Linked DNA regions of Homo sapiens: region 2 is linked to region 1. Evidence: fine-mapped QTL for protein levels in blood plasma. Region 1 holds a variant in brackets. A gene starts in the other region. All regions are shown on their reverse strands.

Region 1 (15,750 bases):
GGTCCAAGCCTCCGGTGTGCCTGTTCTCTGCCCCACTGGGGTCTCATTCTTGGTCAGCGGGATGGAGCCACCTGCTTGAGGTGGCACTGTGAGGAGCACGCTGGGGTGACACCTCCATGGTCCTCACATGCCATCTTGCCTTATACCCACTTTACATATGAGGAAGCACATCCCAAGCCAGAAGGGGCAGATCTGAACTCAACACAACGCCAGCCCCAGAAGAATCCACTAGAGTCTTTGATGGGGGAGAGGGATGCACCAAGCCTCCCTGGGCACCAGAGAGGCATCCTGAGATACCCTGTGGGCTCCTCCACAGAGGCCTGGGGCCCTCGTACATATACAGTGTTTGTGTGTGCACACCCACCCACACATAGGGCTGCTCTGCTGGGGCATCTGCCAGCCCGTTCCTCCCAGCCACACCCCTCCTCTGTGTCTCTCCTGGGGACATGTCCCTCAGCTCAGGGTCAGCGTCTAGAAACTGGTCTTGGACAGCTCATGCACTCATGGTCTCCAGGAGAACTTGAAAGTAGGTGGTTGGGCCCGGTGCAGTGGCTCACGCCTGTAATCCTTTCACTTTGGGAGGCTGAGGTAGGCAGATCACAAGGTCAGGAGATCGAGACCATCCTGGCTAACATGGTGAAACCCCGTCTCTACTAAAAATACAAAAAATTAGCCAGGCGTGGTGGCGGGCGCCTGTAGTCCCAGCTACTCGAGAGCCTGAGGCAGGAGAATCGCTTGAACCTGGGAGGCGGAGCTTGCAGTGAGCCAAAATCGCGCCACTGCACTCCAGCCTGAGCAATAGAACGAGACTCCATCTCAAAAAAAAGAAAAAAAAAAGGTAGATGGAGGTGACACGGGGTACACTGTGCCTTTAAGACTTGTCCTGGGTTGGATCCAGCAGAGAACAGTTGGGTAAACAGCATTGAGCACAGTGGGGAAAACAGACACTACATACTCAAATGAGGATGACGGAGCAGACGAGGGAACTCCAGCGCTGCAGCCTGCCTGAGCCCTGACACCCACACGTCCTGCCAGCAGCCCCAGGAGCTGAGGAAACTGAGGCTGGGAGAGGGTCTCAGACGGCCAGCACAGAGCAGGTTTACAAACCCCGAGGCTGATGTCCCAACTGTCACTGGTGCTGCGACCCTCCCGGCTTCCTCTTAGAAGGTGGGAATGGGGCCAGGCGCAGTGGCTCATGCCTGTAATCCTAGCACTTTAGGAGGCTGAGGCGGGCAGATCACCTGAGGTCAGGAGGTGATCTGGCCAACATGGTGAAATTCTGTCTCTACCAAAAATACAAAAATTAGCCGGGCGTGGTGGCGCACACCTGTAGTCCCAGCTACTCAGGAGGCTGAGGCAGGAGAACGGTGTGAACCCGGGAGGTGGAGCTTGCAGTGAGCCAAGATCGCACCACTACACTCTAGCATGGGCGACAGAGCAAGACTCCATCTCAAAAAAAAAAAAAAAAAAGGATGGGAATGATGAACCACACTGCAGGAGCTCCCACATGGCACAAAGGAAAGAATACTCTCAGGACGGGGTCTCCACCTGCCAAGCCCTCCTACTTCGGGGCCTCTCTACACGCCCTTGGCCTTCCAAGGTCTCAGGGCTCCCCTGCAGCTCCCAGGGCCCTTTCTGGGTGTGACGTATTTTCTCTGTGGTCCCACACCTCCTGCCCCTCCAGGAATTGAGCCCTCGTGGGCAGGCACTATCCCCCAGAATAGGGATTTGTCCCATACTGTGAGAGAGTTTTTTGTGTGAATGGTGCTGGATTTCCAGCTGCTGGTGAACACTCAGGTGTGCCAACAGTGCCCTGATTATGCGAGGACAACAGCAACCATCCCCGTCGTGGGCCACCGTGCCAGACCCTGTCCTGCAGATCCCCTCTGAGGCAGAGCTGGGGCAGTGACAGCCTGAGCCTCAGTTTCTCTGCTGTGAAGTGGGCCCACGACAGCTCCTCCTTCATGGGATGACCCCGTTTGGAGGATCAGGGCAAGCGCAATCCTGCTGCCCTGCCCATGCCCACTCACTCCTACCTCCTGTCCCGGTGGCAGCCTGACTGGACAGAGCCTGGGGTCTGAGCTGGCCTTCCTTCCACTGCCCTTCTGGAAATAGAGTGGCCATACTGCCGCAAGCTGACTATGCTGTGGTCAGGATGAACTCCCCTGGCCTCCCAGGGTGGCCGCCACATGCTCTCGACCCCCAGGCCCCCAGATGGGCAAAGTGCTGAGGAATGAACATATGGAGAAACAGAGACCAAACAACCACTTCAATCATACAACAGGTGGGGGCCCGCCTAGCATCTGGCCAGGGCTCTGGGCACTGTGCTGCCCCCAGCCCACCCCCTGCCACAGGTGGCACAGATGGGCCCATGAGTCAGCGCACGTTCATCCCCTTTGTGCCTCCCCCAGCCCCTCCAGCAGTCTGTGCCCTCATAACCCCCATTTCCCAGGCAGGAAAACCTAAGGTCAGGGAGTGGGAAGCCCTGTGTCAGCGTGGCCCGCAATCAGGGGAACCCCGGACTCTCTGACGCTGTTACTAGGGGCGCAGCAGGCGCTGTGCTGGAGCGATCTGCGGTTCCCAGGGCGAACCCCGCCTGGGAAAAACCCAGCGTGGGCGCCAGCGGCAACGCCCGCTCGCTTTCATGCAGTTTGCCTGGTGGCCAGGGAAAGGTCGTTCTTGGCCTCATTTTGTGGATTAAAAGTGTCCGCGACGGAGGTTCAGAGCAAGACGCAGCGCAGGGTCCTCTGGGGCCATCGGCGTCGCGCCCCCTCCCTTGTGGGGCCCCGCGGGACCGTCTCAGGCCCGAGGGGTTGGGGTCGCCCCAAACTGCGCGCTCTCAGCGTACAGCCTCCAGGCCCCGGGCCCGCCCCGGGTGGAGGCGGAGTCTGGGGCAGCAGCTCGCCGCCGGGCGGGCCGGGGGCGGGCCGGGGGCGGGCGCGCAGCTGGAGCCTGCGGCTGAGGCTCGGGCGCGCTCAGGCCCGGATCCTGGCGGCCTGGGCGGCCGCACCATGGACTCGGGAACCGAGGAGTACGAGCTCAACGGCGGCCTGCCTCCGGGCACACCCGGCTCCCCGGACGCCTCGGTAAGACCTTCCCCCCACCGCTGCATGATCTTGCCAGGCCCTGTCCTTTCGGGGCGCCGCGGCTCCCCGGGCACCTGTGTGCGCCGCGTCCGCACTGCAGAGTGTTGGGGGACGTCCCGCTCTAGGCCAAGTCCTTCCCGCCCCATCAGGGTCAGAACGATGCCCCCGGGAGCTCCAGCCACCCCCGGCAAGTGGGCGGGACGAGGGGGCGTGGGGGCGCAGGGCGGGCTGGCGTCCCCAGCCCCACTAAGCAGCGCCCGCGCTTGGCTGCACGGCGGAGGGGGCCTCGGCGCAGCTCCTCGGGCTAAGGACTGCCGGCGCCCGGCTTTCCCGACCTCCCCCCCACTCTCGCGCGGGCCTCTCTAACTTCAGCCTCGCCGTGCCGGCTCCTCCGCGCACTTTGCCCGGAGGCGGGCGGAGGGGAGTCACAGCCTCCGGGCTCCAGACCAGCTGCATGCAGACAGTTACGTCACCCCACGCTGACCACACAATCTGATGCGTGCCTTGATGGGGGAACTTGGGGCCCGCTGTGGTCCCTATTCCACTCACCTGCCTTGAGAAATAGAAACGTCACACAGCCTTCAGTGTATGCCGCCACCGGCCCTCCAGAACTTGCCCTGCCCGGCCTGGGAGGGCTGTGGGCAGGGGGCAGGCCCTGGTAGTGGTCCCGCTTCAGAATTCTTCATCCCAGGACTCAGCACTTACTGAGCACCTTGTGTTTGTTGCAAGGTCCTGGCATGGCCCTCTGGTGACTTGTTTACTTTGAACATTCTTTCCTTTTCTAACCCCCTCAGGGATGGGGGCAGGGAACAGCAGCCTGTTGGGTTTTTCCAGGCCTCTCCATGGCGTGGACCAGACTGGGGCAAAGACACTCTGCCCACTCGCTGGTGAACAGTCCTAGGCCGGTGCTGTGGGGACAGGACATGTTCGGGGAGGCGGGGCCCCATGAGCCACGGGATAGGATGGCCCTGGGGCTGCATGGACACTTGTTCCTAGGTTAGAGAGGAGCTGTCGCACTGCAGGACTTGACCGGTGTGCGGGACCCCAGCGACCTGGCCCTGCCCCAGTGTGTGAGCACTTTGGAGCAATAGGCAGGGGGCTCCTCCGGCTGTGTGTCCTTGGGAAGTTGCCACACCTCGCTGGGCCTTTTAGACATGGTCTTATAAAGAGAGAACAAAGGGTCTCTCCTGCCTTCAGGGAAGTGGGGAAAGCAAGTCAGGTAATAAACAGGTCAGTGGCTTGGAAGCGCCTTGGAAAGGAAGGGATACTGCTCCTCCCCCAACCCTGACCTTGCCCGGGCAATGCCCTCCACTCAGAGCAGTCTCTGCTCACTTCTGCGGGCGGCAGGATAGGCTGTGCCTCCTGAGATGGGTGCATCTCAAGCCCAGAGGAGATTGGGTTGGATTTGTTCCCGGATCACTGTCTTGGCTCTGGGCACCAGAGGGAGAGAGACACAGCCC[C/T]GCCCCACCAAGCCGCGGTTGGAGAGCAGCCCAGCCCAGACAGGGCAGGAGAGGCCAGGGCAAAGCAGGGGGTTCCCTGGGGGCTGGGAGCCCATCGTGGGGGGCGGGGCATGGTGGTCAGGGAAGGCTTTCTGTGGAGGTGGGGACATTGGCTCTGAGCCCTGGAGGGCAGGGAAGGTGGGTGAGCAGATCTGGCTCTCTGAGATGTGTGGAAGGGCATCTAGGCAGAGGGAACAGTGGGAGCAAAGGCTCAGAGGCTGGACCACAGAGCACATGAGGGCCAGGTAGGAGGTGGGGGGATGGGAAGCCAGGCCGATGGGAGGGGCCTTGCAGGCCTGATCACGGTCTGGTGTCCAGGGAGCTGTGGAAAGGCTATGAGCCAGTGTGAGGATGAGCACATTTCCCCTTGAGGGGTAGAAAACTTCGAGGGCCGCTCTGCTCACCCAGCCTGGGGGCCCAGGACCACCCAACACACCTGTTCCTCTTCCCAACCTCAAGACCTTGCTTCTCCGTTTCTTGGGCACATCATGTCAGCACTCTGTGCCTCAGTTTCTCATCTGTGAAATGGGTGTGGTCGCGGTGCCTGCCATAGAGAGTGGTGAGGACTCAGTAGCTGATGTATATGAAGTGCTTAGAGCCAGGCCAGCACTCAGCGCCCTCATCCTTCTGCCTGCCACGGAGACCCTCTCCCACTGGTGACCCCTGGCAGTGGTTTGGAGAGGGCAGCGCTTTGCCCAGCTCCCTCAGTTTCCTTTTCTGTAAAATGGAGAGTCTCAGTTTCCTTTTCTGTAAAATGGGGCACAACTGCTCACCTCCCAGGGTGGACAAGGCTCAGGGAGGAGCCACACGTGGAACTCCAACCTGGGTGGGCTCTGTTGGGCCACGGCCGTGGGAAGCTCTCAGGTCTCCCCTACCCCGTGTGCCCTGCGCCCCTGTGGCCCTTCATGTGAGGGCCCCCATCAGTGTCCAGGGATTGAGTCAGCTCACTTGTGGCTGTCAGCAGAAGGAATAGTAAACAACAATGTTAATGTGAAAATGGCCTGAATCTGTTATCCCCAGGGTGTCTCAAGGCAGGGAGGTGGTGGGGATGGGGTTAGGACACGGCCATCTGGTGCCAGCCACACCTTCCTGCCCCTCACAGCCCGCAGGTTGAAGGTTCCTGGGGCCACATCTGGGCCGAGAGGCATGGTCCTTGGAGGTAGGTAGCTGTGCCCTGTATACCTGCCGTCTGGGCCGTGCATGGCCTCAGCTGCCCAGGAGGAGGTTTGCTCGTTTCCTCATTTCCGCTTTCCTGGCAGATCCTGAGGCCGGCAGGGTCTGGGCCAAGTTCTAAAAGGCAACCCTAACATGGTCTCAGGGCCACTCGTGGCCAGTGCTGAGTCCGCGGGAAGTGGGTCTGCCTGGCCCAGCTGTGGTGGGAACCCCGCCTTCCAGCACTTCCTGCTGTCTTGCTGGGGTTTCCTGCCAGGAACACAGACATGGAGCTGGGAGACCCTCTCAGGGCCTGCTTCCTGGGCTGGCCGGTAGGAGACGGTGCAGGGCTCCAGTGCCAGGCCCTGCCTGTCTGTGTGGCATCTGGGGAATGGGCACAGCAGCTCATGCCCACACTGGTGGGTCAGACAAGGGATGCCGGAAGCCCCAGGCAGGTCCTAGCATATGGTGGGGTAGAAGAGGGGTGCCTGATTTTCAGGTCGCCCCACCATCTGCCAATGCCTGCTGAGTCCAAGGGTTAGGGCCAGTGAGCAGGACAGGCTGCGAGCAGCCAAGGTGTAGACTGGGACCCCCCAGGCACCCAGGGCAGGCACCTCGTCCCTGTTGTCCCCCTGGGTCCTGCTCAGCACAGGAGAACCTGTGCCCCAGGCTGTCCTTTCTTTGCTGTGTGACTGTTTTGTGAGCCTGTTCAGCTGCTTTTGAGTCAGTGGAGTTGGTCGGGGAGGCAGAGTCTTTCAAAACAGTGAGAGCCAGGCATCAAGGAAAACAGCCCTGCCACCCACTGCCATGCGCTCCACCAGCCACGGGGCATCTGAGACCACCCCATTCAGTCCCCTCCACATCCTTGTCTACCCATTTTACAAATGAGGAAACTGAGGCATAGAGTGGTCAGTGTTGAGGCAGGACTCGGGGGGTAAAGGAGGTGCTGTGGCAGCTTCCAGCCCTACTCCTCACAGGCCCCTGGAAAGGGCGACTGATATGCATCACCACATTTGTGGGCCCACAGCCCCGACCCTGTCTCCTCCCATCCAAGCCCTGGGTGAGCCAGAACACCCATTATGCTATGGCCAGAGCCAGGCCGGTGGATGCAGCAAGCCTGGTTCATATCCCACTTCTGTGCCAGCCCCTCCTGCCTGAGCTGAGGATGCTCACTGAAGTGGCCCTAGGACCGACCGTGTGGCCCAGCCCCAACATGTGCAGCCTGCAGTGGGGAGGCCGACCGTCCACAGAAGGTTGCATGAGGAGCCAGCCACGCCCCTACACAGAGCTGACCTCCTCACCAAGCCTCCCTCCTAGCTTTCAGAGGAAATATATCTGGCCTGGCCCCAGGCCCCGAGTGCTGCTGAGGTTCTGGGAATCTATTAACCAGGGTGTTTATTCCCTGCCCTGCCCAAGCCATGGGCACTGGTCTCAGCAGGGCTTAGCTCCTGGCAGCTCCTGCTGGCTGGTCAGGACCACAGGGCTCCCTCACCTGTGGTAGCTGGGTCCCCCGGCCACCCTCAGGCCCATCCCAAGATAGAGGCAAGTGCCCAGGACTGGGGGAGAGTGGGATCGTCCTCCCTGGGACCCTCCTGTGTGGTGGTCAGCTCAGGGCTCCAAGGCCCAGAGTACCAAGGTTAGGGACAGGGAAGCAGACTGTCCCTGCTGCCCTCCCCTCCACATGATGCTCCCAATGTGGCCTGCTGCCTGGGGTGGTTGCCAGCTATGCTGTATCCTGGGGCAGCCCTATGCTTTGGGACACACAGTCCTGGGAGATGGCTCTGGGAAAACCTCCTCTGAGCTGCAATCTGCTGGTCTGTAGAATGGGAGAGGAACACAGCCTCTCCCTTGGTAAGCAGGAGTTTCCCAGGTGCAACCCTAGATATACGGAGGGGGAGACTGAGGCCAACGGAGGGGGAGCTTGCGTCAGGGCCACGGGCTGGGCTGTGGTGAGCCAGGGCTTGACCTGCATGCAGAAGCTTCCCTAGCTGCAGGTTGGACAGGAAGCAGATGGCCGGATGGGCTGGAAGTGCCCTTCACCAGCAGGGGTGCATGGTCAGGGCATTTGCTGGCCACTCGGGGCTCAGAGGCCATCCTGGGGCATCTGCTCCACAGCCTCGTGGTACACATGGAAGACTGAGGCACAAAGTGGGGCTAGTTGTCCGGACACAGCTGGAGCCTGAAGCAGGGAGCCATTGAGAGTTCAGCCCCTAAGGGACAATGGCATCAGCTACCAGAGCTTCTGAGCCCCGGGGCCTGGGTTCAAATCCTAGCCAAGCCCTCACTTGCTATGTGGCTTTGGGTAAGGAACCGCCTTTGCTGGGCTTCAGTTTACCCACCTTAAGTGGGCATGAGGACAGCAGGGGCACAGGCTCCTCGTGGCTGGGGGTGCTGAGAGCTGAGGCTTGGGGAGCTGGAGGCTCTGCGCGGATGGTGCTTTTTAATGGATCTGAGTGTTCCTCGTGACTGCATGGCTGTGAAATATTTAAATGGTTCTGCAGAGCTCAGAAAAAAAGGGAATTCTTCCTCCTGCCCAGAGGCCAACACAGTTAGCCTGGGCTTGTGTGTCTGTTTATGTACGTGTGCATATGTATGTATGTGCATGTGTATTTGTGTGTGCGTATTGTGTGCACATGTGTGTCTCACGTCTATGTGTGTCTTTCTGGGGGATGTGTGTTTCTGTGCTTTTGTGACTAGGAACACGCACATATATGTGTAGATGCCCCCAGAAGGTGGAAATCCTCACGGGGTCTGCACTTGGCCTTCTCCCAGCACCAAGTCCTGGGATGGAGACCCGAATGAGCATAAGGGTGGCCTTGAAGGAAGGCACTTTGGCACTTGAGGTTTGTGAAACTTAGGAGCACATGCCCACTGTGGCCAGCAGCCCCTGGGACACTGCACCTTGCGGAGCACACGTGTGATGGGGTGTGGCCCACTGGGCAGCTTCGCAAGAGCAGAACTGGAGACGACCTCAGTGCCAGGCACAGGCCCTTGTGTCCGGGCTGTCCTCACCCAGACCCTGGGCAGCCTGGGAGGAAGCCCCTAAGTGGACAGTGGTGGGACAGGGACACACAGTCCTGGGAGGTGGCTCTGGGCAAACCTCCTCCAAGCTGCAATCTGCTGGTCTGTAGAATGGGAGAGGAACACAGCCTCTCACTTGGTGAGTGCCCTGGCTGTGCTGGGGCCTGGGGGAATCCCAGGGAGTGCAGCGTCAGGCCCAGGGTGGGAGAGGCAAAGTAGACACCCCATAGAGGCTTCGGGGTATGCATGGAGTGACCCGAGAGCACACCAGGGCCCCAGGGACAGCGCTGCTGGGTGGCCCAGGTAAAGGCGGCTGTCCCTGTGCGCACATGTGTCCACGTGAACTTGCTACTTAGAGAGCAGCTGATGCTGAAGGCAGGTTGTTGGAATTCCCAGGCCCAGGTGTAAGCAGCAGAGCCCACCAGTGTCCCCTGACGCCCACTCTCTTCCTCCTGGGCACATAATTTTAGATGAAACTGAAAAACACGCAGCATGAAAGCAAGGCCCCTGCCCTCTGCTGGTTCTGTATTGGCTGCCTCGTGTATTTTTCCAGCCTGCAGAAAGTCGAGGCCTGGATGGATACCATGTCCGCCCCTCCCTGTGGCCCTGCGGCACCCCGGCCTCCCGGCCTGCATCTTTCATGAGTCTGGAAACAGGATCTCCCAGAGAGGGCCCCAGGAGGTTGGCTGCCAGCAGTGGGTTCTCACAGCTGCCTCCAAGCAGGTGACCAGTCCTGGGAGGCTGTGGTCTAGGGCCTGGCAACTCAGGGGCGCCTGTGGACAAAGGGCCGGGCCAAGGGGCTGGCAGGTTTGTCCTGAGTGACTGAAGAGGGCCCCACCAGGGCAGCTTGAGAGGGGCAGACTCTTGCTCCAGAGAAAGAGGAAGTTTGGTACTTAGCTTGGAATGAAGGGCCAGCCCTAGAGAGGACCTTCCTGTGGCAGGAGAGAGGGCCATGTCCTGCCAGGGGAAGTCCTGGGAGGCTTCCTGGAAGCAGTGGCCTCTGTGTGGGGCCTTGGAGCTTGAGAGTGTCTGGCACCAGGGAAAGGCATTGGGGGCTTCGAGAGAACTGCAGGGGGCCCTGACCAGATAGGCCCCTAAGGCAAAGAGGATTCCATCAGAACTCGCATTCCCATTTTATTACTCTGGGAAGTAATGTGGAAGCTAAGCTCCACTGTATGTCGTATGCTGAGGCATCTGTTGAGCCTCTGCTGTGTCGGGGCCGGGCTCTGGGTGGCCCACCTCAGTGAAGTCTTGCTGCTAATGGCCGAATAGTTCTGCAAGGCCTGTGCTGAGGCCTGGAGGCGAGTGGCCTGTTGGGCCCCAAGGCTGGGAGGTTGGGAGGTGGCAGGGGCGATCTCTGCCCTTAGGTCCGGCCCAGGAGGACTTGCTTCTTGCCTGGGCCGGTGTGCACAGATCTGTCCGCCCACACGTCACTTCCTTTCCTGGCATCAGGAGCTCAGACTCTGAGGGGAGGGGGAGAGGAGGCCGGGGGCACAGACCGGTAGGGGCAGGCAGGGAGGAGCAGCCCCGCCTATGGCAGGAGTGGGAGGATCGGGCAATGCTTTCCAGTGGAAAATCAGAGTGCGTGTGCTAAGGTTGCTATGTCGTTTCCTTTCTCTCCAGGACCGTATTCCTAGGGGAGGTTTTATAAAGGCTGAGCACATGCTCGCAGCCTCTCCTTAGGGTAATAAGCACTTCTGTCTGAGCACTTACCAGGGGTGGGGGCAAGGGAAGCCCTCACCTGCAGGGCCCGGTGACCCCCAGAGCCCGACTCAGGCACAGCCCTTGCCCCCCTCCCCCACCCGCCTTGCTGACCATTCCCCTCCCTGCAGCCGGCCCGCTGGGGCTGGAGGCACGGGCCCATCAACGTGAACCATTACGCCAGCAAGAAGAGCGCAGCCGAGAGCATGCTGGACATCGCGCTGCTGATGGCCAACGCGTCCCAGCTGAAGGCCGTCGTGGAACAGGGCCCCAGCTTCGCCTTCTATGTGCCCCTGGTGGTCCTCATCTCCATCTCCCTTGTGCTGCAGATCGGCGTGGGGGTGCTGCTCATCTTCCTTGGTAGGTCCCCAGGTGGGGGCAGCCAGGCCACCTGCTCACCTTGCTGGCATCTGCTCGCATCGCCTGGGACAGGTGCCCACCACCTTGCACACTTGGCTCTCAAGGAGCTGCCGAGTTCCTGGCCCTCATCACCCAGACATGCAGTCCAGGAAGTGGCACCCCCCCTCCCCCCACCCTGCACTTTGGTTTTTGTTTTGTTTTGTTTTGTTTTTTGAAACAAGGTCCCCCTCTGTCACCCAGGCTGGAATGCAGTGGCGCAGTCTCGGCTCACTGCAAGCTGCATCTCCTGGGCTCAAGCGATCCTCCCACCTCAGCCCCCAAAGTAACTGGGATTACAGGCGCTCATCACCATGCCCGGCTAATTTTTGTATTTTTTGTAGAGATGAGGTTACGCCATGTTGCCCAGTCGAATTTTTGAGCTCAAGTGATCCAACAGCCTCAGTCTCCCAAAATACTGGGATTACAGGCATGAGTCACCACGCTCAGCCTTGTTTTGTTTTGTTTTGTTTTGTTTTTGAAACCGGGTCTTGCTGTGTCTTGATCACAGCTCACTGCAGTCTCAACCTCCCAGGCTCAAGCGAGCCTTCTGCCTCAGCCTCCCAGGTAGGCTGGACCACAGCTATATGCCATCATGCCAGCTAATTTTTTTATTTTTGGTAGACACGGGGTCTTGCTATGCTGCCCAGGCTGGTCTCAAACTCCTGGGCTCACGTGATCCTCCTGTCTCGGCCTCCCAAAGTGCTGGGATTACAGGTATGAACCACTGTGCCTGGCCCCACCCTGCACTTTGAAAGAGCACAGAGTGGGGTCAGGGCCTGGCCTGTGGGCATTAGGGCAGGTGTTTCACCGGGTTCTTGTTGACCCATGCCATGAGATGGCCTCAGTCATGCCAGTCCTACCTTCTGGGCCCAGGGTCCCCTTCATGGCTGCGTAACCTTGGGCAAGTGGCTGAACCTCCCGGGCCTCACTTATAAAACAGGCATCATAATAGAACTGCAGCTTGTGGCAGGAATCACTAGATTAAGGCACGCAAAGGGCTCAGTGCATTTGCCCAAACCTGGCCTTTGGTTGACGTCCATAGCTTCAATTCGTATAAGGAAAATATGGGGGCTACAGAAGGTGGGGTCATAGACCGTGGGGTTGCCCAAGCCAGGGGCGCTGTTGTCCATGTTTCAGCAAAACAGATGTATTTTTCTCTGGGCGACAAAACTCATCCTAAATGCGACTGAGAGCCCTGTAATGTCCCAGGACAGCTTGACCGCTGGGGTGGGTCCCCTTCCACTGTCCCAGGCTGGGGCGCTGCGTCTGGGCTGCCCTTGGCACCATCCACTCCTCTCTCGCCCACAGTCAAGTACGACCTTAACAACCCGGCCAAGCACGCCAAGCTGGACTTCCTCAACAACCTGGCCACGGGCCTGGTGTTCATCATCGTGGTAGTCAACATCTTCATCACGGCCTTCGGGGTCCAGAAGCCCTTGATGGACATGGCACCCCAGCAGTAGGACACCCAGGTGAGCTGGGAGATGGGGCGCGAGGCCTGCAGTCCTGGGGTTGCTCGCTGTTGGAGGCTCTTGCAGTGTGGTGAGTCCCTGGCCGGCCAGCCTTGGACACCTTCCTAGGCCATGGGCATCCTCGTCCACACCTACAAGGCCAATGCCTGGCCACTGCCTTGAGGCCAGCCCTGCCACTGGTGCTGGCCACCTGGGGTCCTGTGGTCACAGTGTTTAGATGGAATGTGTGTAGGAGCCACCATTTGAACATCCTGGAGAACTCACTTAAACGTAAGATTTCTATACATTCAGAATGTCTGTCCGATAAAAAAAAAAAGATTTCTGGGTCAGGCGCGGTGGCTCATGCCGGTAATCCCAGCACTTTGGGAGGCTGAGGCGGGCAGATCACTTGAGGTCAGGAGTTCGAGACCAGCCTCGCCAACAGGGTGAAACCCCGTCTCTACTAAAAATACAAAAAGTGGCCAGGCATGGTGGCACATCCCTGTAGTCCCAGCTACTCAGGAGGCTGAGGCAGGAGAATCGCTTGAACCCAGGAGGCAGAGGTTGCAGTGAGCTAAGATCGTACTACTGCACTCCAGCCTGAGCGACAGAGTGAGACTCTGTCTCAAAAAACACCCAAAACCCAAAGATTTCCGGCTTCTCTTGATAAGTCAGGGGCTCTGCACCCCTTATCAGCTCCACTTAGCAGGTGAAGCTTCCTCCCAGCCCTCGTCTGAGAAAAAGGGACCTTGGTATGACCGCCTGCCTGACATGCCCACCTCACTGTGCCACTCTGACCAGGACGGTGGGATTCAGGATCTTGTCACGTGGAGCCCTTGTGACTCTTCAAGTCTGCCCCTTGCCGGGCCTCGCAGAATCTGTTAGCTGCCTGCCTTAGGCTGGACCCTGGCTGTGTGCAGGATGCAGACTGAGGCTGTCTCTACAGGACGAGGCACCCAGTGTAGGAAGACTTCTCACACCACATACAGCCTCTCCCTGTGTCCTTGCTCAGAGAGGGTGAGCGTCTGCCCAGTGACACAGCCTGGGAGCAGGATCCACAGGAAGGCCTGGGATGCAGCCATGGCCAGGGCCACATGGTGCACACACTACAGTCCATGCAGCCAGGCCAGGGCCACACACCACAGTCCCCGCGACCTTAGGCCTAGGGGTCACCCCTCCGGTTTGTAGCAGAGGTGGAGGTGAGTTGCTAAGGGAGGGGTGGGCACTCCTGGCAGGTGGCCATCTCTCCACCAGTGGTGGCCCATGGCAGAGTAGACAGGAGCAGTGCTCTTGGGGCAGAGCGCCTGTGTGTCAAGGATATATAAAAATTTCCCCAGGCCAGGCACGGTGGCTCACACCTGTAATCCCAGCACTTTGGGTGGCTGAGGCAAGCGGATCACCTGAGGTCGGGAGCTTGAGACCAGCCTGACCAACATGGAGATACCGTGTCTCTGCTAAAAATACAAAATTAGCCAGGCGTGATGGCGCATGCCTGTAATCCCAGCTACTCAGGAGGGTGAGGCAGGAGAATCGCTTGAACCTGGAAGGTGGAGATTGCAGTGAACTGAGATCACGCCATTGCACTCCAGCCTGGGCAACAGTATGAGACTCCATCTCGGGAAAAAAAAAAAATTCCCCAAGAGGGCATAGTGAGGATGAGGTGGGGCGCTGGGGCCAGCAGCTGGGTTGGGAGCACCCTGCATCCACCTGGCCTCACCCCTCCCCACACGGGGGCCAACGAGTGACCGCTGCTCGTAGTGGCCCATGGCCTCTCAAGCTCCCCTACCACACCCAAGGCCATTCCCCCAGTGGGATCACGCCAGCCCCCAATGTCCCGGCCGTGGAGCCTGAAGTCACCCTCCTGAAAGGACCTGGATCTGGGCGGCCCCATGTGGGGTCCGAGTCACTGTCCAGATGCTGCCTCCAGTTTGTAGTTAAGTTGTCCTCTTCCAGAACACCTAGATGTCAGCTGCTCCCTGGCTTGGGCATGTGGCCAGGCCATTTATTAATCACCTGCTGTGTGTGCTGAATGCAGTCCCTAACTCTCCCAAGCATGAGTTATCTGCCTGCCGGGAAGAGGGTGCTGCGTCTGTGGGCCACGTGGGGACCCAGCAGTGGACCTTAAAGCTGTCCTCAGAGGCTCGGAGGCCAAAGCTGCTGTGTGTCCTGCGTGGAGCAGTCAGAGAGGTCTCAGGCTTCGTGGGTGGCTATGGTCACAGCTGCCCAACCCGAGCCCCCCATGCTGGGCCAGGCCTCTAAGTCCTGGCAGTAACCCAGCCATGCTATATTCATTCCATTTTCAGAGGGGAAACTGAGGCATGGAGTACTTTGACACCTCTCATGTCAGAATCAGGCTCTTCTCCTTCCTGAGTCCGGGTGTGCAAATGGCCCTGACACTCGGGGCTTGTCACAGCCTGGCTCAGAGCCTCTCCTCTCCCTCCTTCCAGGCTCAGAGCCTCTCCTCTCCCTCCTTCCAGGCTCAGAGCCTCTCCTCTCCCCCCTTCCCAGGCTCAGACCCTCTCCTCTTCCTCCTTCCAGGCTCAGACCCTCTCCTCTCCCTCCTTCCAGGCTCAGACCCTCTCCTCTCCCTCCTTCCAGGCTCAGACCCTCTCCTCTCCCTCCTTCCAGGCTCAGAGCCTCTCCTCTCCCTCCTTCCAGGCTCAGAGCCTCTCCTCTGTCTCCTTTCCAGGACCCTGGATGTTGCCTGCCCTGCAACTCAGCTGCCCGACCCCAGGAGTCGCCATACCTGTGAGGTGTCCACCTCCCTGCACATGGCACTACCCAGACTGCCAGAGCCCAGGCTGGCCTCATCTGCACCATGTCCCCGGACCAGCCCTTGCTCTGACTGCGGCCAAGCACCACGCAGGAGGCCACTCTTGTCTCTCAGCAGCTGTTCCCAGGAGGCAGCTCCCTCCTGGCACATGGGGGCTGGCCACAATAGCCCAGAGGGTCAGAACTGGACAGCTGCAGAGACCTGTGCCCAGAGAAGGGTCTCGACCCACTCAAGGACACACAGCAGGTCCGTGGATGGGCTGGATGAGTGACCAGGGCCAGCCTCTGTCTCAGGACATTCCAGAAGGACAAGGAGATGTCTCTCCCTCTCCCAAAGCACCAGCGTCCCTGCCTCCCGTGGGCCCTGTCCGGGTTGCCCTGGTGACCCCAGCCTCTGTCCACTTCCTAACCCAGGGACCCTGCACAGCCAGAACTGCCTTTGGCCCTACGGATGGCCACTGGCTCTGGTCTTAAGTGCCTGGGCTTGGTGGCCATCAAGAGGGAGCCAGTCAGGCCTGTGAGGGCCGTAGACCTTGTATATACCCTGCACCAGCAGTGACCGGGCAGAGCCCAACCCCCTCCACGGGGGTCCCAGCACCCACTTTTCTAATCATGAATGAACAATAAAGCCCACGCTCTTTGTCAGGCTCCACATGCCATCTCCCTGTT
Region 2 (16,283 bases), not on the chromosome of region 1:
AATTACATCGTTTTATAATTATCTATGTGTCTGGTTTATTCATACTCAATAAACGCTGGATGTAACAATGAATTTCTGTCCATGGCTTTTCAGAGAACACATGCTATTACCTCTTCCTATTTCCCAGGTAATTTTTGTCCCCCTCTACCCTCAAGAAAGAATTCCAAGAAGGAAAACAAGGCCCCACGCAATAAAGAAGCTTATCCAGACCCCTTGGCTAAAATCTATGTTCCATTCATTTAAAATGCTTCACTCTGTGGACACATATCATGATACAAGTAAAACCTCAAGAATGACACTCCCTCAAATGCCTATTCTTCAGTTCCTCAACGCAGGAACTGAGCAAGGCGAGACGGAGGGACGCGCCCAAGGTCACCTCGACGAACAGGGGGGATTATAACTGGCCCCGCATAAAGTCGATTACGCCCTGCGTTGGGAGGAGGTTCCGAGGTTCTATCAAACTCAAGTCTGGACCTCCTTACCATCCATCACAAGGTCACACGGGTGCTGGGTTGGGAGAGGGAGGCTCACGCGGCCGGGGAGGTACTAAGTACAGGGCTAAGAAGCCGACTGGCCGCGAAAGACCGCATTGCCCAGTTACCAGGCCCAAGTCGACGAGGCTGCGGTTGAGTCTGGCTTGCACCTTGGGAGCCTGGACAAGGGAGAAGGAGGGCAGTGGGCAGGGGGGCAAGAGAAATGCAAAGACAGCGGTGAAGCTCACCAAGGCTCTCGCGCGTACTCCTCCATCTTGACTCCAATGCCGCGAGTGATGCCGGGCAAGCTGGGCGGAGCCTGACCCCAGAGGCGGAAGTGATCCCGAGAGGAGGGCGTTAAGGTCTATGAGCATTGGTTCACCATTTCCCGCTGCAGCCAATGGGAGCCAGGACTCCTGTGGCCAGCGTGTGGTCGGGGCATTGGCCGCGGCGTGGCGAGACTGGCCCTGCCCACGTCCTCAAAGGCCGCGAGTCCCGGCTGTGTGGGCGGGGGGCTACCAATGACGGAGTCACACTACCCGGTCACCAGAGGTTCCGTGGACTGAAATCAACGCGATACTGCCTAAATACGCTTCTTTCTTTCCCTTCCCTTCCGCCTTCCCTTCCCCCTTCCCTTCCCCCTTTCCTTTTCTTCTCTCCTTCCATCCTTTTTCTTTCTTTCTTTTTCTTTTCTTCTTCTTTTTTTTTTTGAGACAGAGTCTGGCTCTGTCGCCCAGGCTGGAGTGCAGCGGCGAGATCTCGGCTCACTGCAACCTCCGCCTCCCGAGTTCAAGCGATTCTCCTGCCTTAGCCTCCTGAGTAGCTGGGACTACAGGCGGGCGCCACCAGGTCCGGCTAATTTTTATGTTTTTTTAGTAGAGACGGGGTTTCGCCATGTTGATCAGGCTGGACTCGAACTCCTGACCTCGTGATCCGCCCACCTCGGCCTCCCAGAGTGCTAGAATTACAGGCGTGAGCCGCCGCACCCGGCCTCTTTCTTTCTCTTCTTTTCTTTTCTTTCCTTTCTCTCTCTTCTTTTTCTTTCTTTCTTTTTTGGTACTTTTGCTGTCAAATGTGGATTAATGCTATCTTATTCGTCACTTACTGTGAAGCTGTTACCAAATACACGTAGCTCCTTTAGGGCAAACAGTGTCTCAGTGATTTATAATAACCACAGTGCCTGGAATGTAGTAGATGCTCAATAAATGTTTGTGAACTGGAACTGTTTGGGCCATCTGGAGAGCCATGACCAATTTGGAGCCCTCGATTTCAGGGACATTGACACCAGAGCCTCTCACAGGCCTCTCCACTAATGATCACCAGAAGGTGTGAAGATGTTTGGCTCGGAGAAGAGGGGACTTATGGGGACCAGGCCGGGCGTGGTGACACGTGCCTGTAGCCCTGACTGTTCGGGAGACTGAGGCGGGAAGATAGCTTGAGCCCAGGAGATCTACCCCGCAGGGAGCTGTGATCATGCCACTGCACTCTAGTGACAGAGTGAGACACTGTCAAAAAAAAAAAAAAAAAAAGGTTGGGACCCATGGAGCTTTTAGTTTACTGTCAACAAAATCCCAATCATGTGATGGCTGTTAAAGTGCTCCTCTCCATTCTGTACGTTTGTAATTAACTTTAAAAATATGTATATATTTATTTTACGGAAAAGTCAATGTCATAAATAATGGAAGAGGCCGGGCGCAGTGGCACACGCCTGTAATCCCAGCACTTTGGGAGGCCGAGGCGGGCGGATCACGAGGTCAGGAGTTCGAGACCAGCCTGACCAACATGGTGAAACCCCGTCTCTACTAAAAATACAAAATTTAGCCTGGCGTGTTGCCTGTAATCCCAGCTAGTCAGGAGGCTGAGGCAGGAGAATGGCTTGAACGTGGGAGGTGGAAGTTGCAGTGAGCTAAGATTGTGCCTGGGTGACAGAGCGAGACTCCACCTCAAATAAATAAATAAATAAAGGAAGACTGCAAAGAGGAGTGAGGGTCTCTCCAAAAGCTTGGAAATAAAGTAAGCAGATGAATCGAACCCTCCATGGAACTAAAGATTATCAATAAATGTGTCTTGCACGTGAGAATGGTTCATACTAGTTATCTGATTTGGGTGTGTAAGGTGGAGAAGACGTGTTCAGAATGTGACTGTAATTAAGAATAGTTAACTCTATTTAATTGTACAGGCCAAAGAGAGAATGTGGGAGAGGGGACATGGAGGAATTCAGAGGGCAGGAATCTGACATTTAGTCAGCACCGAAGACCTGGTGGGTATAAATATTTTAGTAACTAGAGATTTGCACTCTCACCAGGACCCAGATAAAATATCCCTTAGCTCTAGCTCTAGCTACCTCCCTTTGTTCTTATTCCATATTTATTATGCAATCTTCTTCTTCTTATTTGGCTTCTGAATAGATTTCGATATAGAAGAGAATACCCTGGCCTGTGTTTATAACTATTCTTCTCCACTTGGTAGTTAATACTGGCTTATGTATCTGCCTCTTGTGAGATCAGTTATTTTGACTAAATCACCAGGAATAGTCAGGGTTCTCCAGAGAAACAGAACCAAGAGGATATATATATACACACACATATATATATCTTATTGTGTGCAAATATATATATATCCTTCTGTTTCTGTTTCTCTCTCTCTCTCTCTCTCTCTATATATATATATATATATATACATAAAATTAATATTTATTTATTTATTTTTGAGATGGAGTCTCACTCTGTTGCCCAGGCTGGAGTGCAGTGACGTGATCTCGGCTCACTGCAACCTCTGCCTCCCAGGTTCAAGTGATTCTTCTGCCTCAGCCTCCCGAGTAGCTGGGACTACAGGTGTGCGCCACCACACCTGGCTAATTTTTGTATTTTTAGTAGAGATGGGGGTTTCACCATATTGGCCAGGCTGGTCTCAAACTCCTGACCTCGTGATCTGCCCACCTGGGCCTCCCAAAGTGCTGGGATTACAGGCATGAGCCACCACACCCAGCCTATTTATTTATTTATTATGAGTAGTTGGCTCACATGATTATGGAGGTTGAGAAGTCCAATAATCTGTGTCTGCAAGCTGGAGATGGAGGAAAGTCAGTGATGCAGTTTGGTCCAAGTCCAAAGGCCTGAGAGCCAGGGGTGCTGATGATGTAAATCCCAGTTTGAGGGCAGGAGAAGGTGAAATGAGATATCCCAGCTCAATAGTGAGGCAGGAAAAGAGGGGCAAATTCTTTCTTCGGCCTTTTCAATGCCCAGCCACACTGAGGAGGGCAATCTACTTTGCCGAGTCTACCAATTCAAATGCTATTCTCATCTGGAAACATCCTCATGGACACACCCAGAACAACATTTAATCTGGGCACCCTATGGCCTACTCAAGTTGACACATCAAATTAACCATCACAGTGATAATGAGTTTCGGAGTTTACAAAGCTGAAGTCCAGTTTCTAGGTTGTGGTTCCCCAGCTCATTTAATTCCAACAGTCCCTATCCTAAAGGAGTTTACTGCTCTGGGAAGCTCCGCTCAAGTGGCCAAAGAAACTTTAAGGAAAGAGACTTCTTACTCTTTGCTCTCTTTTAATTGCAACAGATAACAGAACATTTTTGGCTGGGCAAGGCCCAGGAGAAAGATGTCACGTCTTCTCAAAAATATTCACTTCCATTTGGTTCCAGGGTGCTAAGTGAAGAAATCTTTTGAAAAGGGTTCAAAAGAAGCCTTTTGAAAGGTTTAGAAGGATTGGTACTCTAATCTCCCCCTAGTTAGTCTTAAAGAATTCTGAGGGACTGTGGTGGCCCTCACTGATGGAATGGTCAATGATACGAAGGCATAGTAGAAGAAAGCAGTGGAGGTCCTTGAGAGAAAAGTCACCATAAAGGTGAAGGGCGTTTGAACTTCTGATTCAACATACCAGTGTATATTCTATTGAAAGTTACTGTTCTGGGCTCAAGATAGGACTGCTGCTAGAGCCCCATGTGGTCCAGGTACTCAGTAGATCAAGCTTCATTGAGCCAGAGGCTGCTGTGGCCTAAGGAACTCCATCCACTAAGTCACAGGTCATGTACATGGCACCAAACCCACAGTCCCACCTGGTCCATGTCATGGAGAAATTCAGATTGGCGTGGATAAGTAAGCCTCCTGTTGGGTTTGGGTTTTAGTTTGTGACCAGGGCTGATTTGGTAGACAGAGGGGTTTTAGCTTAGGTAACATTGGTGGAGGTGAAGGAGGCAATCTCTTGTCTCTTTGCTGCCCCCTTTTTCCTCCCACTGCTCTCCTCTCAGGAAGACATTAGTCTGGCCTGTGCTCTGTCTTGAGCTCTCCTCTGCCCATTTCTGCTCATCTCAGGAGTGCTGGGCCAGGCCAGTGGCTTGCTCCCAGAGGCAAAGTCTGCTGCCTTCTAGGGGAACTGTCAGCATCCCCCAAAAGGAAAGAACCAGTGTGAAAACTTCTCTCTTTTGTGGTCTCTTTCAGGACCCTGCCATAGTCATTCTATGTCAGCATATCTCCTGATCTTTGCATGTATATACACATACATATAGCTATATAATTTAACTATATAGCAAGCATCAGTGAGTGCTTAAAATATGTCCGATGCTGTTAAGTACTTTGCATGCATTATCTTATTTAATATGCTCAATAATTCCATAACTATGAATTAGGGTTTTTTTAAATTTTAGATTATTTTATTTTCGTTATTATTTTTTGAGACAGTCTCACTGTGTCACAAGCTGGAGTGCAGTGGGATGATCTTGGTTCACTGCAACCTTTGCCTCCCAGCTTCAGGTGATTCTTGTGCCTCGGCCTCCCAAGTAGCTGGAATTACAGGTGTGTGCCACCACACCCGGCTAGTTTTTGTGGGGTTTTGCAATGTCGGCCAGGCTGGTTTCAAAATCCTGGCCTCAAGTGATCAGCCCACCTTGGCCTCCCAAAGTGTTGGGATTACAGATGTGAGCCACTGTGCCTGGACAAGGTTTTTTTTTTAAGAGATGGGGTCTCACTCTGTTGCCTGGGATCATCTTGACTCCTGGCCTCAAACATTCATCCCACCTCCTCGGCCTCCCAAAATGTGGGGATTACAAGCATAAGCCATCATGCCCGGTCTGGTTTTTTGTTGTTGTTTTGTTTTGTTTTGTTTTGTTTTGTTTTGTTTTAGAGACGAGTCTCACATTTTCCCTAGGCTGGACTCAAACTCCTGGGCTTAAGCAACCCTCCCGCCTCAGCACCCCAAGTAGTTGGGACTACAGGCACACATCACTGCACCCAGCTCGTAGATGCTCTTAATATCCTCATTTTCCATTGCCTAAGGCTCAGAGAGGTTAAATAACTTACTTAAGGTCACACATCTCAGATTTGAGCCCATGTCATTTGACTCCAGAGCCTGTAGTCTTATCTGCTATACTATACTGCCACCCTATATTCCTGAAAATGTGACTTTCCTGGGGTCATTCAGCCCAACTGAGAGCCACCTAAGCATTAATTAAATTGGTTCTGGATCCTCATTCTTCCCTCCTGCCCTGCACCACATTTTGATTGGAGCTTTGAGTCTCTTTTCCTTCTTTTCTCTCCCCATCCCTCTAGCGACAACAGTGCTTGTTTTTCTCTGGGGAATAGACAACGGCCAGGGTCCTGATACCCAGGATGGATTTGTTTCAGGTGGAAGTTGATTCTGAGCTGGAACAACCAGTGCTCCCTACAGAGTGGGTCGGGCAGTGGCCTCTCATTGTAGGGGCTGGAGGTGGCTGTACTCCCTGGCCTCTGGGTTCCCAAATCCTCCAGCTCCAGCTGTGATGCCTTTCAAGGGAAGACTTTTGGAGTCTGTGAGCAGTGTCAGGGAGCTCTTGGGGCTCCAGGGAGTAAAAAGCTTCTGACTGAGTCATGTCAGAAGAACCAGCGATTTGGAATTGGGAGACCTGACACAGAGAAGATACTGGGGTTAATGTGTAGAAACCTTTGGTTAGGAGGCATGAGTCCTGCCCTTTACATTTGAAAGCTATGGATTTATTTTTTTGAGTGTCTTCCTGGAGCAGAGACCACTGGGCCCAAAAAAGAAAACCACTGAAACCAGATGGTACAGGGCTAACCCTGGGGCTGAAGGTAGTGATTTGCTTTTAGGCCCTGACTGCTCCTCAGGGAGCAGTGAATATTTTTGGCAAAAAGCCTGAGAAAGAGTCCTTGGAAACTAGAAAGAGAATTGCTTTCAGCTGACTGGGAGGCTAGAGGTTGGCTGAGGTCCTAGAGCCAGGGACCCCAGAAGATGATGCTTTTTTCTGGGCAACACTGAGGGTGAAGGCCAGCTGACCCAAAGGGGGTACAGGGGGAGGGGATGGGCATAGGGAGTGCCATGTCCACCCAACATACCTAACTAAAAGCCCACTCCAGCATGGCTGAAACCCTTTGTTATGCCCTCTGAGATGACCACCCTGACTCCTCCCCACAAAATTAATGTGTCTTCCACTGGGTTTTTTAACAGTTGGACCTCTCTGCAAGACTCCTTGTACCTCTCTAGCTTGCTTCACTTTGCCTTACAGTGTAGTTATTATTATTTTTTACCCCATTGAATTATACATGTTTAAGAGAATAACAATGTTGTAATGACAATGTTGTAGTGCCTGGCAGGATGCTATATATAAATAGTAGTATCTGAATAAATGTTTGAATGAATGAATGAGAACCAGGTGAGAAAGTGTGTGTGTGTGTGTGTGTGTGTGTGTGTGTGTTTAGAGGGTGTTTACTCTTGAGAGAAAGAAATAAAAAGATGAGAGAAAAGGTGGGATGGGAAGAAAAGAACCCAGGACAAGAGTAAATAAATAATTATAGCCAGGCGCTGTGGCTCACGCCTGTAATCCCAGCACTTTGGGAGACCGAGGCAGGTGGATCACCTGAGGTCAGGAGTTCAAGACCAGCCTGACCAACATGGAGAAACCCCATGTCTACTAAAAATACAAAATTAGCCGGGCATGGTGGCTCATGCCTGTAATCCCAGCTACTTGGGAGGGTGAGACAGGAGAATTGCTTGAACCCGGGAGGCGGAGGTTGCAGTGAGCCGAGATCGCGCCATTGCACTCCAGCCTGGGCAATAAGAGTGAAACAGAGTTTCCCAATAAATAAATAAATAAATAATTATAATAATTAATAATAAATATGGTGTTTACCATGTACTGGGTATATCAATGAAATGTTGTCATGTGTAGGACCTAATTTAATATTCACAACAATTGTATAAGGTTGGTATAACTGTTGTCCTTATTTTACAGATGATGAACTCAAGTCTCAGAAAAGAAGGTAGCTTGCCCAAGTCACATGGCCTGTAAGTAGCAATACCAGGACCAAATACAGGTCTATTGGCCTCAAAGGCCCAAGCTCTTCACTGTTAAATCATACTTCTATTCAGCCTCCTCTTGTTGTGTTTTCCCATAGCCCCTGTGCTTGCTCGCTCTTTCTTTCTTTCTTTCTTTCTTTCTTTCTTTCTTTTTTGAGATGGGGTCTTACTCTGTTGCCCAGGCTGGAGTACAGTAGCGTGATCACAGCTCACTGCAGCCTCAACCTTCTGGTCTCAAGCAATCCTCCCACCTCAACCCCCTGAGTAGCTGGGACAACAGATGCTCACCACCACATCAGGCTAATTTTGTTTTTTTTTTTTTTTTGGAGAGATGGGGGTCTCATTATGTTGCCCAGCCTGTTCTTGAACTCCTGGACTCAAGCAATCCTCTTGCCTTGGCCTCCCAAAGTGCTGGGATTACAGACATGAGCCACTGCACCTGGCCTGATTTTGTATCTTTAGTGATATCTCTTGCTCTTAGAACAATGCCTGATATATAATAGGCACTTGATAAATCACTCAATAAATATATACCTACGGTTTGACCAATAAGTTGGCTACTGACTCTTAAAATGACAACCCCCAGGTTTCCCTAAAGTCTTCTTCCACTCTTCCTATCAAGTCTGCCTGCCTTCCTTCTGCCCTTCAGTCCCCCCAGTGGACACCATTCCCCTCTTCAGCCTTAACCTAAAGTTGGACTAGTGGACATTAAATGGCACGGCCAAGTTTTAGTCCCAGACGATCCCTGGACTCAGCAAATGCTGATCAAGTGACTGTCTCTCTCTGGCTTAGGATGGAAAGATGCCAGGAAAGATCGAAGCATCTACCCTGATGGGTTACACCAGGGCTTCTAGAAGGGATTTTGTGGCAGGAGGAAGGGGGGCAGGGGATTGAATGTCTCTGTGACTTGTGCAGGGCAGCATGATGGATGAGCAGTGGAAAGCCCTTCTATGAAACATGCCAGACCTGTTGCAATCGTATCTCTCCCGACGGCCCAGAATTCTGTTTCCCTGAAGACATACTAAATCGTGCTCTGGATTTATATGTGGGTGGTGACCTGCCTCTGTGCTCCCAAAGGAGGTCTGTCTACAGATGCCCGGCAGAGGAAGAAACAGATGACAACAGGGGGAGGTTTGAACCCTCTTCCCAAGAGCCTTGGAACTTCATGGAAAGTGACAGCCCTTTAAGAGTTTCCCGACTTCTGCAGATCCTTCTCTCTTTCCCAAACAGCCTGCCAGTTTTCAGTTTTGGTACACAGTAAGGATTTATTCTCTCTCTCTCTCTCTCTCTCTCTCTCTCTCTCTCTCTCTCTCCCTCTCCTGCCTAGCTATCTCTATCTCTAAGTTTGTCTTTCTGTCTCCTGTCTCTCTCTTAAGAAGTGGCCAAAGGATCCTGGAGCCTCTGATGCTCAGCCTTCAGGTCCTCCTTGGCAGAACCTGGGTAGAAAGAAAATGGGTAGGCAGGGGGTTAGGAGTAACAGCTCCTCATCTTGAATCTAGACTTTCCTGGAGCTGTATACACCTGGGAGCCCCCCAGCACATTACCAAATACTGTAGAAGGAAGTCCATGAACCACACATTGACCACAGTGATACGTCCACCCGGTGATGGAGTAGTAAAATACGCTCTTGAACGTGCCCCGGGCTGGCGAGTTCACCGGCCCTCATGGCCTCGTCCCTGCTTGTCTGGCTCTCCGTGGCTGTGATCTGCTTCTGCCAGCCTACGCATTTTTGTATCTTTTTCTCATTGCGTGGCCCCTTGTCTTTAAAAGGCTAAACTGCTCTGTACTAAATTTGGTCACGCAGCGCTCCAAGATTCCCTGGAATGTCCTCAAGTTTCAAACAGCTCTGACAGCGAGGTAGGCCCGCCCCCAGCTTGGGGATTGGCTTCTCCTCTCCGGGCCTGGCAGTTGTCGGGTCTTATTGGCCGCTGATTAGACCAGCCGGGGTCCACTAGCCCTGGGCTTCAGGGAGGCTGCTGCGTCCAGTGAACACTTCAGCACCTGTAGCACAGAAGGGCCAAGGAGCTGCAGTCCTCGACCAGCAGGAGGTTTGCTCCTCAGCCCACTCGCTGCATCCAGATCAGCTCACCCCTCTCCCTTCCCTGCCCACCAGGACTCTGATAGCCCCTGGCAGCCACAGCCCATTTTGCCAAGATGTCTAGAGTAGCCAAATATCGCCGGCAGGTGAGTGAAGACCCCGACATCGACAGCCTGCTGGAGACCCTGTCTCCCGAGGAGATGGAGGAGCTGGAGAAGGAGCTGGACGTGGTGGACCCAGACGGGAGTGTTCCCGTGGGGCTGCGGCAGAGAAACCAGACGGAGAAACAGTCCACGGGTGTGTACAACCGGGAGGCCATGCTCAACTTCTGTGAAAAGGAGACCAAGAAACTTATGCAGAGGGAGATGTCCATGGATGTGAGTGAGCACAGCCCTGGAGGGGAGGAGGGAGACAGGGGAGGGCTGGAGACCCTGGCTTCATGATTAGGATGCTTCCTTCCTTAGAAGAAACGTTCTTGTTGGCAAAGGATTTTAATGCTTCAGAACTGATGATTATCCACTGAACTAGCGGTGCGAATCTCTTACTCCTAATTTCTGTTTTATAAGCAGAAGTCGGATATGTTGGAGGAACACAACATCCCACAAAATCAAATAGAGCTACTAGTAGAATGGGAGCTGGAAGGTGTCCTTGAAGAGTCCATTGTCAAGTTGACTCCATCCTGGTCCCACAATACCTTTGTTTTTCTCCACACTCATTCCATCCTATTGTGAGGAGGGGTAAAAAGAGAGAGTGATACTTTATGTCTCCTGTCAGCCACCCAAAAAGACAAAGCTAAGCCATTTTTTGTGGGAGAATAACTCATTTTCAAGTCCCCAACCCTATGGGCATCTCACGGCACATGGATCATTTCAGGAGGCTTGGGGGTAAATGAGTTTCCCAAAGCAAAGGGAGACAGGGACCAGGAGTCTATGGGCTGGGAAATGTGGCTTAAAGACCTGATAAGCTTCAAATTTATTCCCAGGGAAGATGTTTTTTGTTGTGGTTAGTTGGTTTTTGGTTTTGTTTTGTTTTTGCACTCTCCAGAGGAGCCTCTGGAGGGAGCATGCCCTCTTTTTGGTAATTAACCCTTTAGCAGCTGGCGAGGCCGCTTTGCTGGGGGTTGAAGATAGTCATAGAGGAGGGAAAAGGGGTGACGGTTTTGGAAGCATCTGCCCACACCTACAATGGGCTTAAGCACAACTTGCTTTCTGTTTTCCTGAGTTGGCATGGAGGAATTTTTTTTTTGTCACTATTGCATTGGTATGTGAGTTTTCTTTGGACAAACTAGCCTCCGATGAAGTATGACTTTGTGGGATACCTTTGTCCATGGGAAAGAGTGTTGCATAGGAAAATTGTTCAAGTCTTTGTTCTAGTTCTCTTATTCAGCCACATCTCTTGTACATTATCCATTACTTGTGAATTCTTGCAAGAAAAAGATCAGTCTCAATTCTTGCTTTTTGTTTTACTTCTATGGAAACTGAGGCACAGAGCTTCAAATGACATGCACATTCTCACAGAGGAACTGAGAATGGGAACATTATCATCCAAAATGCCTGCGGAATGACTGGCTGGGTATGAAATTGTGTTGACTGCTAGTCACAGAGCATATTGGTGGACACAGCCCTGACTCCTTTAGTGTAGCAATGGGAAAGAAGGGAGGAGGAGGGAAGGGGGTGAAGCAAAGAGGAGCTGGAACTCTGTCTCTGTCCCTACCGCCCCCCCCCGCCCCACCACCTATGTTTAAGCCTTTGCCAAGAAGAGGGAGAAGGAGGGAGGAAGGAGGGAAGCCAGGAGGCTCAGGAATTTATTGTCCTGTATGCACAAGGTGGTTGCCCCAGATGCAGCTATGATAATGATAAATAAAACCAAAACATTTACAGAAAAAGTGGTAGCACTTACTGTGAGGGCCCGGTACCCCAACACAGCTATCAGGAATCATACAGAAAGAAATGAAATGCAGCCAAAGGCTTTGGCACCCTTGGAAATCGTTGACTCTGCTCTTCCCCACTCCCAGTCGCAGGCTCTGGGCCCATGACTGCCTTGTGTCCGGTAGCTTCCAGTGCTCAGAAAGGTACTCCTGAGGCTGAAGTCAAACAAAGCAGTCTAATCACAAGCAAGAGTGTGAAGGATTCTCCTGTTCCTGGAAATTTCACTATCATAGACTTTTTATTCAGCCAGTTAATACCGTGACAAGTGTCTCCTCCCCTGCCTCACCTCTCTCACCCCTGCCAGGTCCACACTTGGTTCTGCGGACAGAGCCCGAGTCAAGAAATAGAAGTGGTGTGTGTGTTTGTGTGTACATCCTTGATGTAAGGAGATGCCTTTAGGTCCGGTTTTCCCTTGTGGATGTAGGCTGTTCTGATCCCCTCACTCTTCCTCACCCTGTCCAGGGACGTACATTGGCATAATGGCTGGCTGGAGTTCGGGGTGCATGCTGAGCCTGGGCAGAAGTCATCTCTGTAAATCTGGGTGAGAATGAACCCTAGAAGGTGGCTTCTTTGGCACCATTAACAAAATAGTGAGTGTGTGGCCAAGAACTTGGATTTAAGTATTAGAAAAACCTGGTTTGAGTAATGGTGTCTCTGTGTAAGTCACAAGTTACCTAATCTAAGCCTCAGTTTCATCACCTACAAAATATGGATAGTAGTACCCATCTCACAGGGTTGTGAACACTAAAAGCGGTGCTGCGGTAGAGCACTTAGCACAGAGCTTGGCGTGTCATAAACACTCAGTCAAGGCCAGCTATGAAATTATTACTTCATCTGAGTCAAGGAACCCAGAAACCGGTGAAGTGGGCCGAAAGCAAATCTCTACTCCTGTCCAGCCCCTCTCTTCCCTCAGTTTCCTGAGGGCTGTGCAAGCCTCACCTGTCAGTTTAATGAGTGGCCCGAGTAAACAAGCAACCCCTGGGTGCTCAGAGTGGGGACCACCAACACCACAGACACAGCACCGTGCTGGGGGCAGGTGGACTCCAGGCTGCTGGCCTGGCTGCAGCCCTCACTGACGGTGGCCTTCACTCCATGTGAGGAACTGAAAAGTGGTCAAAACAGAGAGTAAAGCAAGATGAGCATTTACTAAGAAACTTCTACATGCCGAGCACATTCACCTTTTCTTTAAGCCTTACGATTCTTGGGAGATGTGTATTTTTATTCCTATTATCTTAGAGAGGTTGAATAACCTTCCCAAAGTCACACAGCTAATTAGTTGAGATCAGTGCTTCTTCCTCTCTGCCATACTAGGGTGCAAAAAAGACAGTAATGTCAGTCCCTGCCCTGAAGAATTTGTAATCCAATTAGATTCCATGCAAAACACACATGGATAGAACCATCAGAGAGTGCTACAGAGCAGAGACCACAAATTCTTATATTGGCTGATATAATAGTCTTCTGTCAAATGTTCATCTCCCTGCCCCCATGAGTAGGAACATAACTAGAAAAACTAAGTGTGGATTAGGGAAAGTAAATCCTGACTAGATAGTGGATGCTGTTAAGGAATTTCTATTAATTTCTTTTAGGTGTGATAATGGCATTGCAGATATACTTTTTAAAGGATTCTTTTCTTTTAGACATAAATACATAAATATTTATGGGAAAAATTTATTGGCTTTGGGAATTAGCCTTAAAATAATCTGGGTGGGGGTATATATAGATGAAACAAGATTGGCCACCAGTTGACAATTGTTGAAGCTGGGTGATGGGTCTACATGGGTGTTCATTATATTATTTTTTCTACTTTTGTATGTATGTTCGAAAATTTTCATAATAAAATTTAAAAAAAAAAAAGAAAGAAAGAAACCAACATTGGGAGGTTGGCCTTAAGACAGTCTTAAGGTCTGTCTTTTCCCCAGAAGGACAGCCCCAAGATGCATACTCTGGCTATTGTGCAAAGTGAGTCTAGGCTGCCAGAGGGCCCTTGGCCTGCTTCTCCCTCCAGGGTCTCCCTCCAAGGGATGGGATATTCCAGAGATCCTCCTGATTGTTTACCATCTTTTTCATGAATATTCCACCCTTGCCTCTTCCAGGTCAACTCCTATTTGTTCTGCCTGTCTCAGGTACCACTTCCTCCAGGTAGTCTTCCAGGACTCCCTCAAGGTCAGGCACCTTGTCTGAGCGCTCCAATACCAGTCTGTACCAAAGCCCTTGGGACATGACTTTTGTATAATCATCTGTTTTCTTGGGCTGTCTCACTCACCAGCTTGTGGGACTTGGAGGGCAAAATGCAAATGCAGGGCCCAGCACACAGCAGGCCTTCAGCCTCTGTTTGTTGAGTGAATGTTAGCAGGGGATTGGGGAGGGTAGAGGTGGGACTTGGAAGAATTGACCCCAGCTTCTCTCCCTCCCTTTAAAGGGCCAGACCTGTCAGCCAGTGTAGCTCCGCCCTAATCATCCGGGAACTCTCCTTCAGCCCAGGTAGAAGACAAAGCCCCTGGGCAAGCTGTAGCCAACGGTTCAGTGAAACTCTTGTCCTTGTCTCAGGTTTCAGGAACCGGATCCCAACCGGTCAACTTGTGTGTCCTCTTTCCTTCCCAAGTGGGAAAGAAAATCTCCAGCCTGCCTCCCCCTCCCTTCTCCCTGGTGTTAGCAGGGGCTGGGGATTAGCGCCTGTACCCAGCCAGGGTCAGGGCAGCTGAGCTGGTGGGGGTGGAGGAAAGCTCTCCCTAGAGGTAAACTCGAGAAGCAAACCCGAAGCAACCTACTAATAGCGGCTGCTGGGCCTGAGCCCTCCTGACCTTCCACTCCCACTGCCTGCACAGCCTCAGCAGCCCCCTCCCCCATCGGTTCTAGTTCACAGCTCAGTGTCCATGGTATCTCTACGGGGCCGGGAAGGCCCGAGGCCGGCGGCCTAACCCTCAGAATGCCCTTTGCAGAGGGTTGGGACCTATCAGGAGTGCACTGAGCAGCACGGCTCAATGCTTAAGGAGATTAACCCCAACTGGTACACACCCAAAATAGCCCTGGAGGCTAGGGTGAAGAGGGCAGAAGAGGTGACGGGGGCCTGTTGACCCAGGGAGGCAAAAGCAGGCACCGGAGAGGGTTAGACTGTTAAAATCTCGCCCTGAAATTTGAAACTGCCTCCATCCAGAGTTTGAAAAAGCAACTGCTTGTTTCTTAAACTAGGTGGTACAATCCACAGGTGTTTGTTTTAAATATTGTTATTATACGTTTTCTTCTGTATGTATATAATATTTAAAGAATTTTGAGGGCAGGTGTGATGGCTAATACCTGTAATCTCAGCACTTTGGGAGGCTGAGACAGGAGGATCACTTGAGTTCAGGAGCTCGAGACTAGCCTGGGCAACATAGCAAGACCCCATCTCTAAAAAATTAAAAATTAAATTAAAAAAAAAGAATTTTACCAGCCTGGCCAACATGGGGAAACCCCATCTCTACTAATAATACAAAAAAAAAAATGGCCAGGCACGGTGGCTCACACCTGTAATCCCAGCACTTTGGGAGGCCAAGGCGGGTGGATCACCTGAGGCTGGGAGTTCAAGACCAGCCTGACCAACATGGAGAAACCCCTTCTCTATTAAAATACAAAATTAGCCAGGCATAGCGGCACATGTCTGTAATCCCAGCTACTAGGGAGGCTGAGGCAGGAGGATTGCTTGAACCCGGGAGGCGGAGGTTACGGTGCGCCGAGATCGTGCCATTGCACTCCAGCCTGGGCAACAAGAGCAGAATTCCGTCTCAAAAAAAAAAAAAAAAATGCTGGGCGTGGTGGTGCATGCCTGTAGTCCAGCTACTTGGGAGGCTGAGGCAGGAGAATCACTTGACCCGGGAGGCGGAGGTTGCAGTGAGCTGAGATCGAGCCACTGCTCTCCAGCCTGGCTGACAGAGCAAGACTCCATCTCAAAAAAAAAAAAAAAAGACTTTGAGCAAGTGAGGCATTAGTGCCTGCTCCCACCCTCAGTGCTGCCCTCTGGGTGCCTGCCTTCTCCTTACTGGGACAGTAGGTATAAGAGCTTGGTTAGGCCGGGTGCCGTGGTTCATGCCTGTAATCCCAGTGCTTGGGGAGGCCGAGGCGGGTGGATCACGAGATCAAGAGATCGAGACCAGCCTGGCCAACATGGTAAAACCCCATCTCTACTAAAAATACAAAAATTAACTGGGTGTGGTGGCGCATGCCTGTAGTCCCAGCTGCTCGGGAGGCTGAGGCAGGAGAATCCCTTGAACCCAGGAGATGGAGGTTGCAGTGAGCCGAGATCGTGCCGCTGTACTCCAGCCTGGCAACAGAGCAAGACTCCATCTCAAAAAAAAAAAAAAAAAAAAAAGAGCTTGGCTGGATGGAAAATGCAAGAGGGAGGCAGGACAGATGGACAGGACCAAGGAGCACTTGTAAAATAAGATGGCTCACCAGTGAGAGCGGGATATAGATGGTTAAGAGGTGGGGTCTGAGTCCCACTAACCAAGGGGAGGTTGCTCCCAGCATCAGAGAAGGCTGGAGGCTTCAGGGATTCTGGGAGC

Alleles and levels. Positions count from the first base shown, and alleles are read on the strand shown. Strength reflects both the effect of a copy and how common the allele is.
As copies of C replace T in region 1, the plasma level of the protein whose gene starts at base 9,726 in region 2 goes up (weak association).

Evidence for each region. PIP is the posterior inclusion probability: the model's chance that the variant is causal. The UK Biobank Pharma Proteomics Project read protein levels with antibody pairs (Olink). The fine-mapping took linkage between variants from a reference panel, not from the people measured, so its PIPs are less certain.
Region 2: LMOD1 starts here. The variant in region 1 is fine-mapped to the plasma level of the LMOD1 protein (UK Biobank, PIP 0.96).

Annotation. Positions count from the first base shown.
Region 1 is chr9:93,121,479-93,137,228 of GRCh38, reverse strand. NINJ1 (ninjurin 1) reads left to right here and starts at 2,978. Exons shown (of 4, transcript NM_004148.4): 1 at 2,978-3,086; 2 at 10,591-10,819; 3 at 12,167-12,330; 4 at 14,999-15,733. The coding sequence starts at 3,012. The coding sequence ends at 12,321. LOC124902212 (a long non-coding RNA gene) reads right to left here and starts at 4,217. Exons shown (of 3, transcript XR_007061665.1): 1 at 3,636-4,217. RefSeq lists enhancers at 1,668-2,264, 3,724-3,773, 5,255-5,852, 5,853-6,451, 9,078-9,137 and 1 more and silencers at 2,234-2,283, 2,784-3,013, 3,184-3,433, 12,151-12,315. The variant C/T (reference allele first, on the strand shown) is at 4,547.
Region 2 is chr1:201,939,991-201,956,273 of GRCh38, reverse strand. LMOD1 (leiomodin 1) reads left to right here and starts at 9,726. Exons shown (of 3, transcript NM_012134.3): 1 at 9,726-10,194. The coding sequence starts at 9,934. TIMM17A (translocase of inner mitochondrial membrane 17A) reads right to left here and starts at 771. Exons shown (of 6, transcript NM_006335.3): 1 at 722-771. The coding sequence starts at 747. RefSeq lists enhancers at 493-782, 13,874-14,823.